Linked DNA regions of Homo sapiens: region 1 is linked to region 2. The links come from fine-mapping of genetic effects on gene expression. Tissue or cell type: whole blood. Region 2 holds a variant in brackets; the other region holds the start of a gene. All regions are shown on one strand. Distances are between the middles of the regions.

Region 1 (8,192 bases), 35 kb before region 2:
AAACTGCTGGTCAAAGATGTAACAATAGGGGATATTTCACAAATTTTCCAATCTTTATACTTTAGTAAAGTCATTCCTGTTTGACTGTATTAATTTATGTTTGAACTTCCATTAAATATCTTTTCTCCTTGCAAATAAAAATTACCTCATAGATTTTCATGGCATTTTCTATCGATATTTTCCCATAGAATCATAAGTCACTGATGTAGTTTTTTCTGCTTAGTAAGGTTTATTGCCAATTTCCAGTAGAATAGACTTTACTGTGTACAAAATATATATTATTCTAATGTGCAAAAAATGTAAAATATAACTCATAGCTACTATTATATATCCACCCACCTCAAAATGAAACACAAGGGTAGTCATACTATTCATTTTGGTAAAATTTTTTAAAATTTTTATTTAAATTTAAATTTTCACTTAAATAATCAAGATTCATTAAAACATTCTATGAGATAGTAACTGGACTATACTGTCGTAGATGCTACAGAAGCTGCTATGCAGTCATTATCTAGCTGGGATAAAACTGACCTTAATGAAACAACCAATAAAGTTAAAAAGTAGAGGATAAATAAGTACGGTCATTTGCTGCATAACATTTTGGTCAAAGATGAACTGCATATACAAGTGTGGGACCATACAATTGTAATACTCTATTTTTACTGTATCATTCTTATGTTTAGATACAAAAATGCTTACCATTATGTTACAAGTGCCTACAGTATTCAGTACAGCAACATGCTGTTCAGGTTTGTAGCCTAGGAGCAATATGATATACTATTTAGCTTAGGTGTATAGTAGGCTATTGCAGCTAGGTTTGATAGATGTACTGTATGATGTTTCCATAATGACAAAATCCCTGTCATTCAGTGAAACGTAACTGTACTAAGTTGGATAGTAAAAGTCATAAGGGCTATACAGAAATCAGAAGACTGTCAAAATGGCAAGTAATTAAGGAAGGAGGTAAAGTAATAAGGTGGGAGGAGGCAATCTGCCAATTAATACATATGTGACCATGGGCATGTTAACTGCTCTGTGCTCACTGGGTCTTTGTTTATAAAATCTAATGTATTTAAACTGCCTAGTACAATCTACATGAACTGAGTGTTAAAGAATGGCCAGGTGGTTATGAGTGAAAAATGATTCAGGTGACAGAACTAATACAGGCTAGAGATGGGAATGCTTTGAGTAGTAGAGATATAAATCTTTAAAAAACTTTGGCACACACAAAAAGAAAAAGAAGTTCACATGTAATTTTATACTTTTCTATAAATTTGTATAGTAGCAAACTTGTTTTTTCCTGCTGCATGGAAAAGTAACTTTCATTCAGTATTCCCTGCTTCTCTTCATCTTGACTCAGGTTATAATGGAAAAGTTACTCTTTCAACAGTGCAAAGGTTCTTTGGAAAAGAAACAGAGCAGTGTCAATAATTCAAAGTCACAAAGTCAATTATAGCACGCTGTTTATGTGTTTACAAAGACGATACCTCAATAGATTGATTTCACCCCACAAATAAAAAAAGAGCGTTTATTAAGACAAAGAGGAAAGAGGGAGAGAAAAATAATTGCTCTCTGCTGTGTGAATCTTGTTTGCATATTTCTTATGGGATAACTGATTAGCTGGCAGGCAGTAAAGAGGTCATTCTGGACACATTGTCCTTGGGTAGGCTGACTAGGCATACAAAAAATCCTGCAAGGCAGGCTGTTTCTCCGTATTGTCTGCCAGTGACCTTTCATCAGTACTTTATCTTAGTTGAACCAGAACTACACTCCTTCCCTCGCTAGAAGTCTCAGTATATATGATGTATTCCTCTAAGAGGAATCCTTTTTCTCTAAATCTGTACTTCTGAGCCTGTATTTGAAAGTGATCATAATCTGGGGGGCTTAAAATGGAGTTTCTTTTACAAAGAGTTATAATCATAACCGTTTATTTGAATATAAATTTGACATTAAACATAAATATGCAAAATTTAAATTTCCCTTTGGTCTTGCATTTTTCTAAGGATTAACACCATTATTCTCACACTCCAACAAACTAATATATTGTACTGATAATCACTATCAAATGAATTGTAAGAGCTAACTGACTCGAATAGACAATAACTAACCTTACTTTTAAAGTATTTTAAGAGACAGTAGCATAGATGCCTGCACATAGCTGATTATTGCTCCTGTGCTGCAGTGAATTACCACATGAACACATTTTGAAAAGATTTGTTAGCTTCATGTCCACAGGCATTATGAAGCAGGAACCACTTTTAGATTAAGATTGTAACCTGAGGAAAAGAACATATGCATCAGTTTAGAAATTAAAATCCCCTGAGATATTTCTTTCAGTAATGCTTAAAAGCCTAAATTTGTGCTCGTGTGCCAGTCACCTCTACGTAAGGAAAAACATTTTGCTACTCTTTGTTAAAAGTGAAGAGGAAATATTGTCCACTTGTTTTGTAGATGTTGGCCAAATTATATAAACTTTAAAATCTGTAAGACAAATTGAAATATTCCTTTATTATGTCTTGTTAGGATGAGAGAAGTTTGCCTTTCAGCTGCTCCTTAATTTTAAAAATAACAACACAGCAACACTTCTCTTTAAAATCAAACTCTGCTCATTTAAATTCTTTGGTAATAGCCATGAATCCACACCTTAAAAGAAGGAAGGCCTGTGAGTTCGTGAATCCACTTTCCTACTCAGGAGAAGCCCTATGAACTGACTTGAATAGACAGTAACTCACCTTAAAGTAAATATTTTCAGAAACAATAGGTTAGGTGCCTTAGAAATTCATTCAGAGGCTTAGAAATCCACATTAACACAGTTCTTACATGCTTGAGTCTGGTCTACATCCATTTACGTAAGTAAAACTCCCCTTCCAGACTGACGAAATTCTTTTTGTGACAAGAAGACAAAGGAATACGATGGATTGATAAGCGTAGTCAACCGCGCAGAGAGTTCTCGCGCGATGTTACGACGCTACCGCCCTGACATCACCAGTTGCCATGGTAGCACCGCCGAGAGTAAAGGAGGGGTGGTGCTAGACGTTTCGGGCAGAGCTCGGCCGCTGCGGAGGACAAGGAACTCTCCCTCTCCCACTAGTCTGACTTCTTCCAAAATGAGCGGCCTGGATGGGGGCAACAAGCTCCCTCTCGCCCAAACCGGCGGCCTGGCTGCTCCCGACCATGCCTCAGGAGATCCGGACCGAGACCAGTGCCAAGGGCTCCGTGAAGAAACCGAGGCGACACAGGTGATGGCGAACACAGGTGGGGGCAGCCTGGAGACCGTTGCGGAGGGGGGTGCATCCCAGGATCCTGTCGACTGTGGCCCCGCGCTCCGCGTCCCAGTTGCCGGGAGTCGCGGCGGTGCAGCGACCAAAGCCGGGCAGGAGGATGCTCCACCTTCTACGAAAGGTCTGGAAGCAGCCTCTGCCGCCGAGGCTGCTGACAGCAGCCAGAAAAATGGCTGTCAGCTTGGAGAGCCCCGTGGCCCTGCTGGGCAGAAGGCTCTAGAAGCCTGTGGCGCAGGGGGCTTGGGGTCTCAGATGATACCGGGGAAGAAGGCCAAGGAAGTGACGACTAAAAAACGCGCCATCTCGGCAGCAGTGGAAAAGGAGGGAGAAGCAGGGGCGGCGATGGAGGAAAAGAAGGTAGTGCAGAAGGAAAAAAAGGTGGCAGGAGGGGTGAAAGAGGAGACACGGCCCAGGGCCCCGAAGATCAATAACTGCATGGACTCACTGGAGGCCATCGATCAAGAGTTGTCAAACGTAAATGCCCAGGCTGACAGGGCCTTCCTTCAGCTTGAGCGCAAGTTTGGCCGCATGCGAAGGCTCCACATGCAGCGCAGAAGTTTCATTATCCAGAATATCCCAGGTTTCTGGGTTACTGCCTTTCGAAACCACCCCCAGCTGTCACCTATGATCAGTGGCCAAGATGAAGACATGCTGAGGTACATGATCAATTTGGAGGTGGAGGAGCTTAAACACCCCAGAGCAGGCTGCAAATTCAAGTTCATCTTTCAGGGCAACCCCTACTTCCGAAATGAGGGGCTTGTCAAGGAATATGAACGCAGATCCTCTGGCCGGGTGGTGTCTCTTTCCACTCCAATCCGCTGGCACCGAGGCCAAGACCCCCAGGCTCATATCCACAGAAACCGGGAAGGGAACACTATCCCTAGTTTCTTCAACTGGTTTTCAGACCACAGCCTTCTAGAATTCGACAGAATTGCAGAGATTATCAAAGGAGAACTGTGGCCCAATCCCCTACAATACTACCTGATGGGTGAAGGGCCCCGTAGAGGAATTCGAGGCCCACCAAGGCAGCCAGTGGAGAGCGCCAGATCCTTCAGGTTCCAGTCTGGCTAATCTCTGTCCTGTGAGAAGCTTCTGCACAAGTTTCCTTACCACCTCCTCTTGGACCTATGCTTGGCCAACAGCATGCAGTCTTCCATCTGCTTTCTCTTCATACTGTGGATTATCTTTTCCTTTGGTTCTAAATCTTCAGTAATCGGTTGCAAGATTGTTGGCTTACCTGCCTGTGCCATTCTTCCTCTGGGCCTTCATGCTTTTCTGCATTGTGTTAACATGTTTCAAGTGCATGGCCTTCTACGGCTTCTATGCCAAGCGTATGATACTATAGATATAGTGTACCATACTGCCTTTCTTTGCATGGCTTGGACCCTATCTGTGACCATGCTCTTCTCCCAATTTAAGTGGTTCTGTACCACAAAGAATCTTGATACATTTTCACAAATAACTGATTGGGCTTCATACTTTATGCTGGCTGTGTCCTGATACCCATGTACTTATGGTAAGCTATTTGGGTATTACCACTGCAAGACAAAACTGATATCTTAACCCGGCCATCAACCCAAATTGGACATTCCAGACTACCACCAACTGGATCCCAGCTGCCTTCCTGGGCTTGTGCCATCCACCCTACTGGTTATCTGATAGAACAAGCTGGTGGCTGATGGGTGACTGCTAGGCGTGACTGAGGTAATAGATGAAAAGTGTTCTATGTTATCACATTGGTTTTCCTGTACCTTTGGTTACTCTACGTCATGACCAGCTGCTGGTGAGTATGAAGCCTGTGCTATAGCCCACCCCTACTCACTCTCACCTTCTGGTTGAACTTTGCTTAGGCCACCATTGTCTGCCTCATCAGGAACTATCTGTAGACGTAGCTCCCAGGGAGCTCACAGCAACACCCCCTACCACCAGGATGGGCAGTAATATGTGACAGAGCCCAAAGCAAGGCTGGAACGCAGTCCCTTCCAGCTTAGTCTTTCTGACTCCTAGCCAACAAACCATCCTTAATGTGAGCAACTTCTTTAGGCATTTCCTCTTTTCCCCGCCTGCACCCACTCTGAACATGACAAAAGTTGCCAGAGTTGGGGCATTGAGGAAGAGATATTTCTGGAATGTGAGACTTGTTATGCCTCTGTCTCTTTCTCTCCCTCCTCCTCCCCTCTCCCTCCCCCTCTCCCTCCCATCCCTTTTCTTCCCTTTCACTCTGAAGCAGTTTTAGCTTATTAACAGAAAACAAAACTGGCAAAGCAGGCTTTTTGTTTAATTTGCTCTTTCCCTGATTGTGTTCAGAGAGAAAGGTTATGATTAAATGGGCTCCAGATCTCTTATTGCCCTTATTCCTCCACCCCACTTCTTTTAGCAAGGTCTGAAAGTTTCAAAGGGAGACCTATAGGTTAATTGTTTAGTTATAGGCAGTGTTAAATTAGGCAGATTTTGACATATTTATCTTTTTACCCCATCCATTCTACCAAAACCTGTGTATTTCTTGAGTTTTTAGTTTGAGAAGCTGGAAAGAGAGAGAAGGGCCTCACAGTGATGGGTTCAGGACGGGTCAAAGGCAAAGGCCTTTGTGATGTGAGCAAAGGCAACCAAAACTTAGCCTCACTCCACTTTTCTAAAGATGGAAATTCTTTTTTGGGCCTTGGACTGCTTCTAGGGTAGCATTTTGTAGGTCACTCTTCTCCTTTGTACTATTTTGTTTCTGCCCTGATGTCCCTTGGGTCTCCATCCTACTGCCTGGCTTTCTTGGCCCTCATTTCTCAGCTTCTGCATTTCCTTCCCTGCTCCTAACAAATGAAGAAGCAGGCTGCAGCCTGCATTGTGGAAGATCTCCAGCCTCCTTGTAGGGGATAAGGGGATGTGCAGCATCTGTGTGGATTTTCACGGACAAGTTCCAGTAGGTGGGACAGTGATGCCGTCAAGGCTTAGTTATGATCATGTGTGGTGATAAAGACCATCCACCATCACCCTTTTCCCCTTTGGTTTTGAAGGCCTTGCCCTAAGCTACCTGAGGGTTTAGGAGGTCTGAACACACACAGTGGAGAGGTTAATCTAGGTTGGGAAACTGAGTAAAAGTCCAGAGCAGGAATGAGCCTGCTGTGGCGTGGGTTTGGAAAGGCTCACAGGAAAGAACCTGCAGGATCAGGGGTGGGAGGGGAGGCCCCTGAGGTGCTCTCCAGGGAAGAGGGGCTGGGGTTTAAATAGCATGCTTGGAGGAAGATTTTCCTTCAATTTTTCCTAAGTCCTTGAATTCACCAGTAGATTTTTGTAAACAAAATGTAAGTCGATGTTTTCTCTCAATTATCCTAGGAGTGACCTTTATATGTGTGGAAGATTAATGGTATATGCTCCTTATGTCACTGTTTTTGAGTAAAATCCATTTCCTTTCTCTGTTTCAGCCTATGACAAAATTGATGTTTACAGGCCTGCTTTTTGCTTATAATTGACAACATGTGCAAAAATACCAAATTTGTGTCCTGTGCAGTATGAAGAATTCAGTGAATATTCATTAATGTATTAGCTTGTTTTGCTCTCTGTTCATATATGGCTCTATTCTTAGAAATATAATTTGAATGTGATCTTTCAATAGTCTGAATATTTTACAAATTATAGCTATGTCTTGTGAAAATAACCTCAAAAAGAAAAATACGACTCTGTTGTCTTACTTGATATTTCTTGCCCTAGTAATGTACTTGACATTTATGTTCCTAAGCAGTGTAAGTACCAGTAGAATTTCTCTGTCAAACTCAATGATCATTTAGTACTTTTGTCTTCTCCCATGTGCTTGAAGGAAAAATAAAGTGTCACTACCGTATTTCTTGTTTTCATCAAAAAATAAAAATAATTTAAAAAATTCTGTGTTGTCTAGGTTAATTTAAGGTTGGGAAATCATTAAAGTTATCAAATGATACCAGTAACTATCATCCTGAAAGTTTAAAAAAAAAAAAAAGGCAACAGCCACCAAACCTTCCAAGATTTTTCACCTGAAAAATGGTAAATGGGAGCCCAACTGCAACTGCATACTCATGAGCATTATTTTTTCTACATAACCAGTGCAGTTTTTGGTGGTAATTGAAGCACCATATAGTATCACTTAAAATACTGTTTTCAGTGGAAAACTTGTCTATGCAGCATCCTTGTTCATTACATTTATTATTAACTGTGCCTTCCGAGATCTAATAAGCTTAAGATAGACTTTTGGAAGAATTAATTATTGTGTATTCTGTCAGTGCTACTTAACATTCTTTTCTTACACCAATGTGTGGCTTTAAAAAGAATACCAAGAAAATATGAAATAAAATGTCTAGAGACAAATGATATCAGGTATCACAACTTTAATTACCGGTAATGATAGTTTTGCTGTATAGCAGCAATTACATGAAAGTTTATTGGATAAATACCTCTGCATTCTCTGCAGTAAGGAGGGCTTTGTGGATGCTACAAAATCTATGAAAATGAATTGCTAAGTATTTGTAGCCATCTAAGCAAAAATTTGACAAAAATGGCCCAAAATTTCTCATTTGAGTTAGAAACTTAATTAAACATACAGTTAAAATAGATGCTGACTCTTGGTGCAATTATTACTTGCAATTTCTTGCTGAGGTATTTTTTTCTAGGGCTAGAGAACTTTAAGTATTAGAGAGCTAGGTTTTCTTTTGCAAGCTCTACATCCATCTTAATCCTAAATTCCTCTAACAATGTTCATTTTACCTTTTCAGTTCAGTGATTGATTTCTGCATTGTCAGCCACCTGTTTCAAGCTTTATTATACCTTTTCTATGCCTGTTCTGGATGTAATCAGAAAATGTCATTTTTCCTACACTTGGTTTATTATCTGCTTTAGTCTAACCAATAGCATTCACTGTAATAGGCTGGCGCCACTTATTTGTTACAG
Region 2 (8,192 bases):
CATTTTAAAGCATGGGCCCACTACTAGGATAGCAAATGTCTCTATGAGAGGCACCTTCTAAGACATCCAGGACTTTAGCCTTAATTCACCCAAAAGATGCATTATTATGTATCAGCCTGTATATTATTCAGAAAGCAGGAATTCTACTCACAGATTCTAAGCATACCATAGAAGAAACTAAAGCCACACATGCTAAGGAACATGGAAATCATGATGCTAAAAGGGCTGGTGAAGGTAGGTTTTAAGGCTCAAACTTGCTCCATACTCATGGCAATTCGGTATTTGATGGAATTTGAGGAAACATTAGGGGAGACCTAATGACTCAGGTAGAATCTCGCTTTGACCATAGACATTTCCTGGTATTTCCCACAAGAATAAGTATTTACACACTGAAGTCTATCAACTATTCCTGTCTAATTCTCTACCTGTATTATGCTATTTAAATATCCCCTCATACCCACAAGGAATTACTGTACCATTTTTATGACGGCAAAATTGAAGCTTAAAGAGGTTATAAAACCTGCCCCAGGTAATACAGTAAACTGCAGAGCGGGGCTTGAAATCAAGTCTGTCTTACTTTAAAGTCTATGCAATTATACTGCCTTCATTCTCATGAATTCAATCCCATCATGGCTGTGTTAAACAGTAAAATACATGGCTCCGCACGGAAATGACTAAAGAGTGGCTGTACTCCAGGTATCTGTGGAGGAGTATAACCTACAACTCAGAGTCCCTCAATCATCGTCCAAAGATGAGAAACCAAATTCATGGAAAACTGAAGGATATACAGTTTACCACCTTCTAGAAAACCTAAAACCTGGACATTCGGTGAGCTATGAGCATACTGGTCCCCAATAACACTGCTTTGCTAAAATGTACTTGGTTGGGCTGCTGTCAGCAGAGATTGAGGTATGTCATGAGAAAAAAAATCAACTTGTCACTCAGCATTGTTTAAAATAATGATATGGTCATGGCTGACACTTTTAAAAAAGCCCTGGTCTAATTTGCTATCTGTATTTCATAAGACAATGAAAACTGAATGACTCATCACTCACCCAAGAATATATTCGCAGAGAAGTCTACAGTAATCACTGTGAGAACTGGTAATTAACAGAAGAATTTTCCCAGCATTCTTTAGCTGTCGAAGCCATTTTTTCACAGATTCAGGACAACTATGTAAATATCTGCCTGGATCTCTTTTTATTTCTGGAAAATATATTCCACAGTTTTCTGAAAAATAAAAATATCAATGAGGTTTTTCTTTTTAAACATTTTTTGACTAAATATATTCTCTAACAAGTTAATCTCTTTCAAATCTATAGATAAAACTAAAAGGATAAGAACAAGGTTTGACCGACCTAGCAATTATGCCAATACTACTTGCTTTTTAAGAATAGTTCTTTACTTGAAAACACAATATTGTTTGAAAATGTTAGTTGATAATATTCGCTGGCTATTTGACAAGAACTGATAAACTGTTAAAACAGGTAACACAAGAAACACAATATGATCAGCATTTTCAAATGCTGTAAGAGAAAACCTTACATTTGAAATATCAATTGTTACAAATACTCTTTTAATTATTCAATGAATATTTGCTGAATACAGACAAGAAACAAATCAACACTCAGATATTGCACCAGGATCACATCTTTTGCATAAATAGCCAAGAAGGGCGATGAGTTCCTCAGAGTCACAGTTTGCTATTTCAGATGGAATCTATACTAGGGGAGCCATTCTATAGCCTCTGAGAAGTGCTGAGATATCAAAATGGAAAAATCGGTGCAAAATAGGCCAGAACAGGCCAAAAGGCACTGTATTTGACAGGGAACAATGAATGACTCGCATCACTGAAGCGGGGTTGCTTGCTCTGCCCCTTTAGAGTGGCCACGGGGTCTGGCTGAGCTCCAGGGCAGATGGTGGCAGTGTTTCCAGATGTCCTGACCAGACTTACCCATAGTGCTTGACCCAATGCCTTTAAAGTTGTGGGTACTTAGCAGGCAATTGCAGATTTAGTTGAAATGTTACTAGATTCATAACACATACTGTTCTCAGAGCATGATAGAACTAGTAAGCAGATAAAAAGGATTCAAGATTTTACTTTCTCTAATTGTTAGGAAAAGGACACATGCATAGACAAAAAAAAAAAAAAAAAAAAAAAGGTTAAACAGCTTGTACTGAATGATAGAGTCTGCAATAGCTAGATATGGGATACATCCGTGACTCTCTCCAGTGTGAAACACTTGAAATACTTGGCAGTTATATTTCAAGAATATCAGGACATCAGGAAGAAGAGTTGTTTTTTTTTTTTTTTTTTTTTTTGAGACAGAGTCTCACTCTGTCACCAAGCTGGAGTGCAGTGGCATGATCTCTGGCTAACTGCAACCTCCGCCTCCCGGGTTCAAGTGATTCTCCTGCCTTAGCCTCCCTAGTAGCTGGGACTACAGGCGTGTGCCACCACGCCCAGCTAACTTCTGTATTTTTAGTAGAGACGGGGTTTCACCATGTTTGCCAGAATGGTCTAATGGTCTTGATCTCTTGACCTCACAATCCGCCCACTCTGCCTCCCAAAGTGCTGGGATTACAGGCATGAGCCACCATGCCTGGCCAGGAAGAAGAGTCTTTAAGTGAAACAAAAACGAACAAATAAAAACAAAAAACGGTAGCAAATATTGTGGTCTGCCTCCCCACATCCATCTCCCTCTTTGCTGGGGAGTGCTCTGATATTGTTTCGGGTTTCATCTTCCTCTGAGGGGGTCTGTGATGCTAGGAAGGGCAAGGGTCTCTATCAGTCTACACCTATCACAGTTATTCCCTCCTCCTGTCATTGAATTGTTTAGGAAGTGCTGGGGACCCAGGCATGGCAAATGAGACCTGAGGAGAACTTTGCTGCAGGATCCTGAAGTAATGTATACCACTGATAAAAATAAACCTATAAAGGGGGGAATATCCCCTCTTCTACTACTGGACTTTCCCATGATTATAAATTCTATGTAGAACTGCAGCGGTTATCATCAACACAAAGCACGAGTCTGATATACCAGAGATGGCGGAGTGGACATATGAAAGGAAACAAACCTGGGTCCCTGATGACATCACTGGGTTTCTGCTTTTGTTTCTGTTTTTGAGACAGGGTCTCGCTCTGTTGGCCAGACTGGAGTGCAGTGTGGCACGATCATGACTTACTGCAGCCTTAAACTCCTGGGCTCAAGTGATCCTCCCACCTCGGGCCTCTGAAAGTGCTGTGATTACAGGCATGAGCCACTGTGCCTGGCCACCACTGGATTTCTGATTAAGTCACTGACTAACTCTAACCACCACTGGAAGTACCATTCAACTTCTGGACAACCTCTGGTTGTGTAAAATAACTCAATTTAGTAATAGCTTAAACATTAAGGTTATTTATTATTTGCAACTTAAAGCATCATGATTCAGAAAATATATTGCATGAATATCATAACCAGACCAAAACTAACAAAAGAAATAATATTTTGCAATATGAGAATAATATTTAGAAGACCAAAAACAAAAACAAAGTTTTTGCTCTTTTTATATTTTGCCCTACAGGAACTTCTGTGTGTGAATCTCTAGGATCTATTTTTAACATGCCAGAGGCTATATAATAGCCCTTTAAAAAAATTAAAATATATTCTCTGTTTCCCAGGGAAGAGGAAGTACTAGTAAGAAAAGGTCAGTTTAAGAAACAGATGATAATAATAAATCTAAATGGCTAAGAATAGAGAAGTTTGATGAGTGGATGACTGCTAATTTCAGAGGCTGTGTCTCTCTCGTAACTTACTATACCTAAGGGAGTCAGATGTGAGATTATTTCACTTAGAAAAACAAAGCTTTTGTAGCAAGAAGAATTTTATGGGCTACGTAAGAAAAAAATTTATAGTGTGTAATGCTGAAAACATAGACTTGCTTTCAGAAAACTTGAGAAAAAATTATTTTTTCTTAGCTATATGTGCTTAGTGCCATCTAGTGATCAAAATATAAATTACCATTAAAAAGCTACTGTTAACATTTCCAAAGGAATAAAAATACAAGGCATACGCATTTAAATACAATATTTTAAATTTCTTACCTAGGTTAATTGCATTAGTATCTCAATTAATAATGTCTGATTCAAAAGAGTACCAATATAATAATTTAATCAGATAAAATTATTCTCTGAAGTCATAACAGAGATGTCCTTGTTTTGTTCATAAGCCAGACTGAAATGAACAAACTAAAAAAGACAAGCCCTGTACAAACACATACCCAATGGTAGATTATGAGTTGCTCTTACTACAAAAGATCACTGTCATGGAGAAAATATTTTTGCCCCCTTGTAACCTCCAATTATTAAAGGAATAGG[A/G]GACATAATTATACAAATAGAAACATCTTTTTATTGAAATAAGTCAAGGTATTAAATCAAATGAAGAGTTATGTTAAACATACTACAATGGATTATAATTGTCTATTAAATTATATCCCCCAAAGAAACTATAAACTTCTAAAGGCAAGAAATATATCTTTCTGCTTGGCATGGAGCAAGTATTCAACATATGAATACCTAAATTAGTGCAGGAGCAGACACAGGAACATTTATGTTTCCTTACATTCAAGGCAAGAGTATGATTAGTACCATATAGCCAAACTGAAGTGATAAAAATAATATTATTCATGTATGATTAAGGCAGCCTATGAAAAAAGTCATGTTTAATTATGATACTAATTAACACTGATTGAACAAAATGGAATTTAGACCTAAGATGGAAAGGAGTGGTATTGTTTGTTCTTAACTCACAAAGAAGCCTGTGTTTTCACTTAACCTCCAAAGGAATTCTATTTCACTGCCACTTTATGTAACTTATTTTCCTGGTTTTTCCACCACTCTTATATCCTTTGATGCTGATATTTTCTAGGTCCAGATGAGATTTAAAGGAAATTCTTTTAATAAGCTGATTCTAAGGAATAAAAGTTTAGCTCTCCTATGTTAAAAAAACTGGTTAATGTAGAGTGACAGAAATAATACCAAAGTGTTGCAACAGTCTGATATGCACATCAAATGGCCTGAATACACCAAACAGGATATAGGGACCTCTCGTGGTAAAAAAGTATAGTACAACCTGAATATTAAAAACAGTTTTTTTCAGTTTAACAGACAATTGTGCCACATCACTATTTCTATCATCACTGAATAAGCTTTTTCTTGTTAACTGTATCACTACTGTTTGCATGATTTTTGGCCAGAATTTTCAAAGCTGCTGTCCGAGGGGACTAGAGATGCCAGGATGCTAACACTTCCATGGTCAGCCTCCAAATAAGGTCTGTTGTTTCCATTGCAGAATATAATTTAGAAGAGATTTAAATATTTACAACCTTTACAAGTTATATAAGAGCACGCTAGTGAACAGCTAAAATGCCTAGCGATGAACTGTTTAAATGTACTTGCTGTAGAGATGATATAATTAATTTTCTTAAAAGAAGAAACTTCTTTGCTAAGAGACACTGAAATATTTGTTGGAGGATAAAAGAGATAAATTTATTTTGTTTATTTATAGGTGGCAAAAAATAAAATTAAAATGTATTAAAACAGATTTGCTGTTTATATAACAAAATATATGGTTTATATCTAATATTTTATAATTAAATAAATAAATCTAGAATATCTAGATTGTGTAAAGTGAAAATCTATATGCTAAACATAATACTTGGAAAGTCTCTCAAATAAAAGCTGGGAAATGAAGTACAGAATATGAGAGAAAAACATAATATACAAAATTTACATTTTAACAGTATCTGATTTCCAGATCTGTAATTTAATTTGCATATCCCGGCCCTACTCCAAAAATTCTGATTTAATTGTTTTGGGGTAGGGCCACAACATTGGTATTTTTTTTTTTAAAGCTTCCCAGGTAGTCCTAATGTGCTACCAGGATTAAGACTTGTTGACCTAAAATATAAAATATAAAATATAAAAACCAGAATTCTTACTATTATTTTCTGTGTATTTTGCCTGCTTCATTGGAAATCACAGGCTCTCAGAGGGCAGGGACTTTTGAATTTTATAGTATCTTTATTACCTAACATATAGCCTTGTACATGTTAGGTAATCAACAAATAATAACTGTTGCCAATTATCTTAAATGTCATTGTGGTTGATGATCTTTAAAGTGTTTACTCTTACACTATACCAATTAAGCATGGTACTCTAGATTTAGTTAAGTATTGTGAATACAGAATGATGGATTTCATTCCTCCTTTGAAAGGAGGATTCCTGGAAAAAGTGTATATTATGGAATTCTTTGAAAGAAAAATTATTCGAACAGTTTAAATGAGTATAGACAAGCCAAACAGACTCCTTTATCTCTCCAAAGCCATCAAACTGCCTGACTCTGTGCTGAATACAGTCTATAAATATGATTTTGGGTCGGCAGTATTTTAAAATTTTTGGATGTTAATGTCCTTGGACAGTATTACATATGTATTGTAATAGTTTACCCACAATCCCACCACGCCATATTGTCTGCACTTGGCCTAGTCAACTCCCCTGTTGCCATCAGTTTACAACCTATTTTTTCTCCTATGATATCAGAATGAATCATTCTAAAAGAACCTAGTTTCCTCTTTCCGACATGGTTACTGGACAGACAACGTAAATGTGGAGAGAGGTTTTTGAAGGTCTGCCTGGTTTTATTCAAAATATAACAAATCCTTTAATGAGGACGCTGACAGCTGGGAGGGTCAGCAGATGGATCTGATGACAGAATCACATACAATAATATCTGGACAGGCTGTAAAGTCGACAAGGTGACTCAGTGAGGTACAATTTCATAGGGAGAGATGAAATCTTACCAGGTTGAAAGCTCAGCCATACAGGCATAACATTGGAGGAGCTGTTGTTTGTCAGCAACTTCAAAATATAGAGCTTACAGTCAGCTTAGGCTCCACAGTATAGACAAAGTAAAATAAAAAGTTTGGAGACCATGTTTTGCAATTTATTTAGTTACTACTATGTACTTTTGATATCATGTTTCTGGAAAAATATTTCTGCTCCAGAAAGCTGGGTAAGAAGCATGTGTCCTCCTTTATAACCCTAGGCATCTTATCTTCATGTGCTCCGTATTATCCAATTAGGTGATTAGATTGTAGAGCTACATTAATATCAGTACAATGTTCAGAACCAGGAAAGCAATAATTTCCACTCTTTTAATCATTTTCAGACTAAACCTTGATAACTGGGTTCTATTCTGGATGACACTTTTCACAAGAAAGTGTGTCCAGAGAATGATGATGTTAACAATTCCTATGCCCCCCACCCTAGAGACCTCTGGTGGAGCCCCAGAGATACACACTGGCCAATCAGACATTTACAAACCTGTGAAACAGGCAGCTTCAAAGGACCGTTTAATCTTAGAGTTGCTTGAGTCTATGCCTCCATGGTGATGTCCAGCCAGATAACTCTTTTTTTTTTTATTATACTTTAAGTTTTAGGGTACATGTGCACAACACAGATAACTCTTTAGCCACAATGAACACCCATTTCCACAGTGTTTCTCCTCCTCTAAAATGTCTTTGCATTTTGAATATGATATTTCAAAAACAGACTTTTGGTAGAGTAGTGGGTCTCAAAATGAAGGTAAATTAGAATTATCCAGAATGCTTTCAAAAATACTCCTAGAGTTTCTGATTCAGTAGGTTTGGGGTGGGGCCTGAAGATGTGCATTTCTAACAATTTCTCAGGTCAACTGACAGTCCAAGAACCACACTTTGAGAATTACTTCAGTAGAATACCCCTATAAAACCAGACAGCTTTTTGAAAGCCTTTTTTCTCCTAGCAGAACATGGTCCTCACTATTTCGGCTAGAAGTGCAAAACCAGATTATGCATATTTAACGTTATCTGATAAAAATGCTCAAATCTGTGTCTGTGTTTAAAAACATTTTAAGTAAAAATCTTTTTAAGTAAAATAGAATTTATTTTTATTTCCTTTATAAGAAGGATATATATGAGAATAAAGACCTGATGAACTGTTTTATGTTTTTTCAGTGTACTATTTGACATTCACTTTCATTTCTGAGCCTTGAGAGCAATACTCTTGCATGTAAAGTAGAAAAAGCACACACTTTGGAGTCAAATGGCCTAAGTTTGAATCCTAAGTTTGTAAGTGGTTTGCCACTTACAGTATCAGGATTTTTGAGAAA

The links. PIP is the estimated chance that this variant, and not a neighbour inherited with it, causes the effect.
Region 1: it holds the start of TSPYL4, and the variant in region 2 is fine-mapped to the expression of TSPYL4 in whole blood (INTERVAL, PIP 0.99). The same link has a PIP of 0.9 or more in breast and unexposed skin.

The regions. Positions count from the first base shown.
Region 1 is chr6:116,248,924-116,257,115 of GRCh38, reverse strand. TSPYL4 (TSPY like 4) reads left to right here and starts at 3,041. Exons shown (of 1, transcript NM_021648.5): 1 at 3,041-7,152. The coding sequence starts at 3,108. The coding sequence ends at 4,352. It overlaps NT5DC1 (5'-nucleotidase domain containing 1), which reads right to left. Exons shown (of 12, transcript NM_152729.3): 12 at 7,619-8,192. It also overlaps a transcript of DSE not described here. RefSeq lists enhancers at 2,670-2,899, 3,310-3,469.
Region 2 is chr6:116,214,092-116,222,283 of GRCh38, reverse strand. NT5DC1 (5'-nucleotidase domain containing 1) reads right to left here. Exons shown (of 12, transcript NM_152729.3): 7 at 1,056-1,230. It also overlaps a transcript of COL10A1 not described here. Among named protein-coding and RNA genes, the nearest start is that of TSPYL4, 36 kb to the left of the region's middle. The variant A/G (reference allele first, on the strand shown) is at 4,361.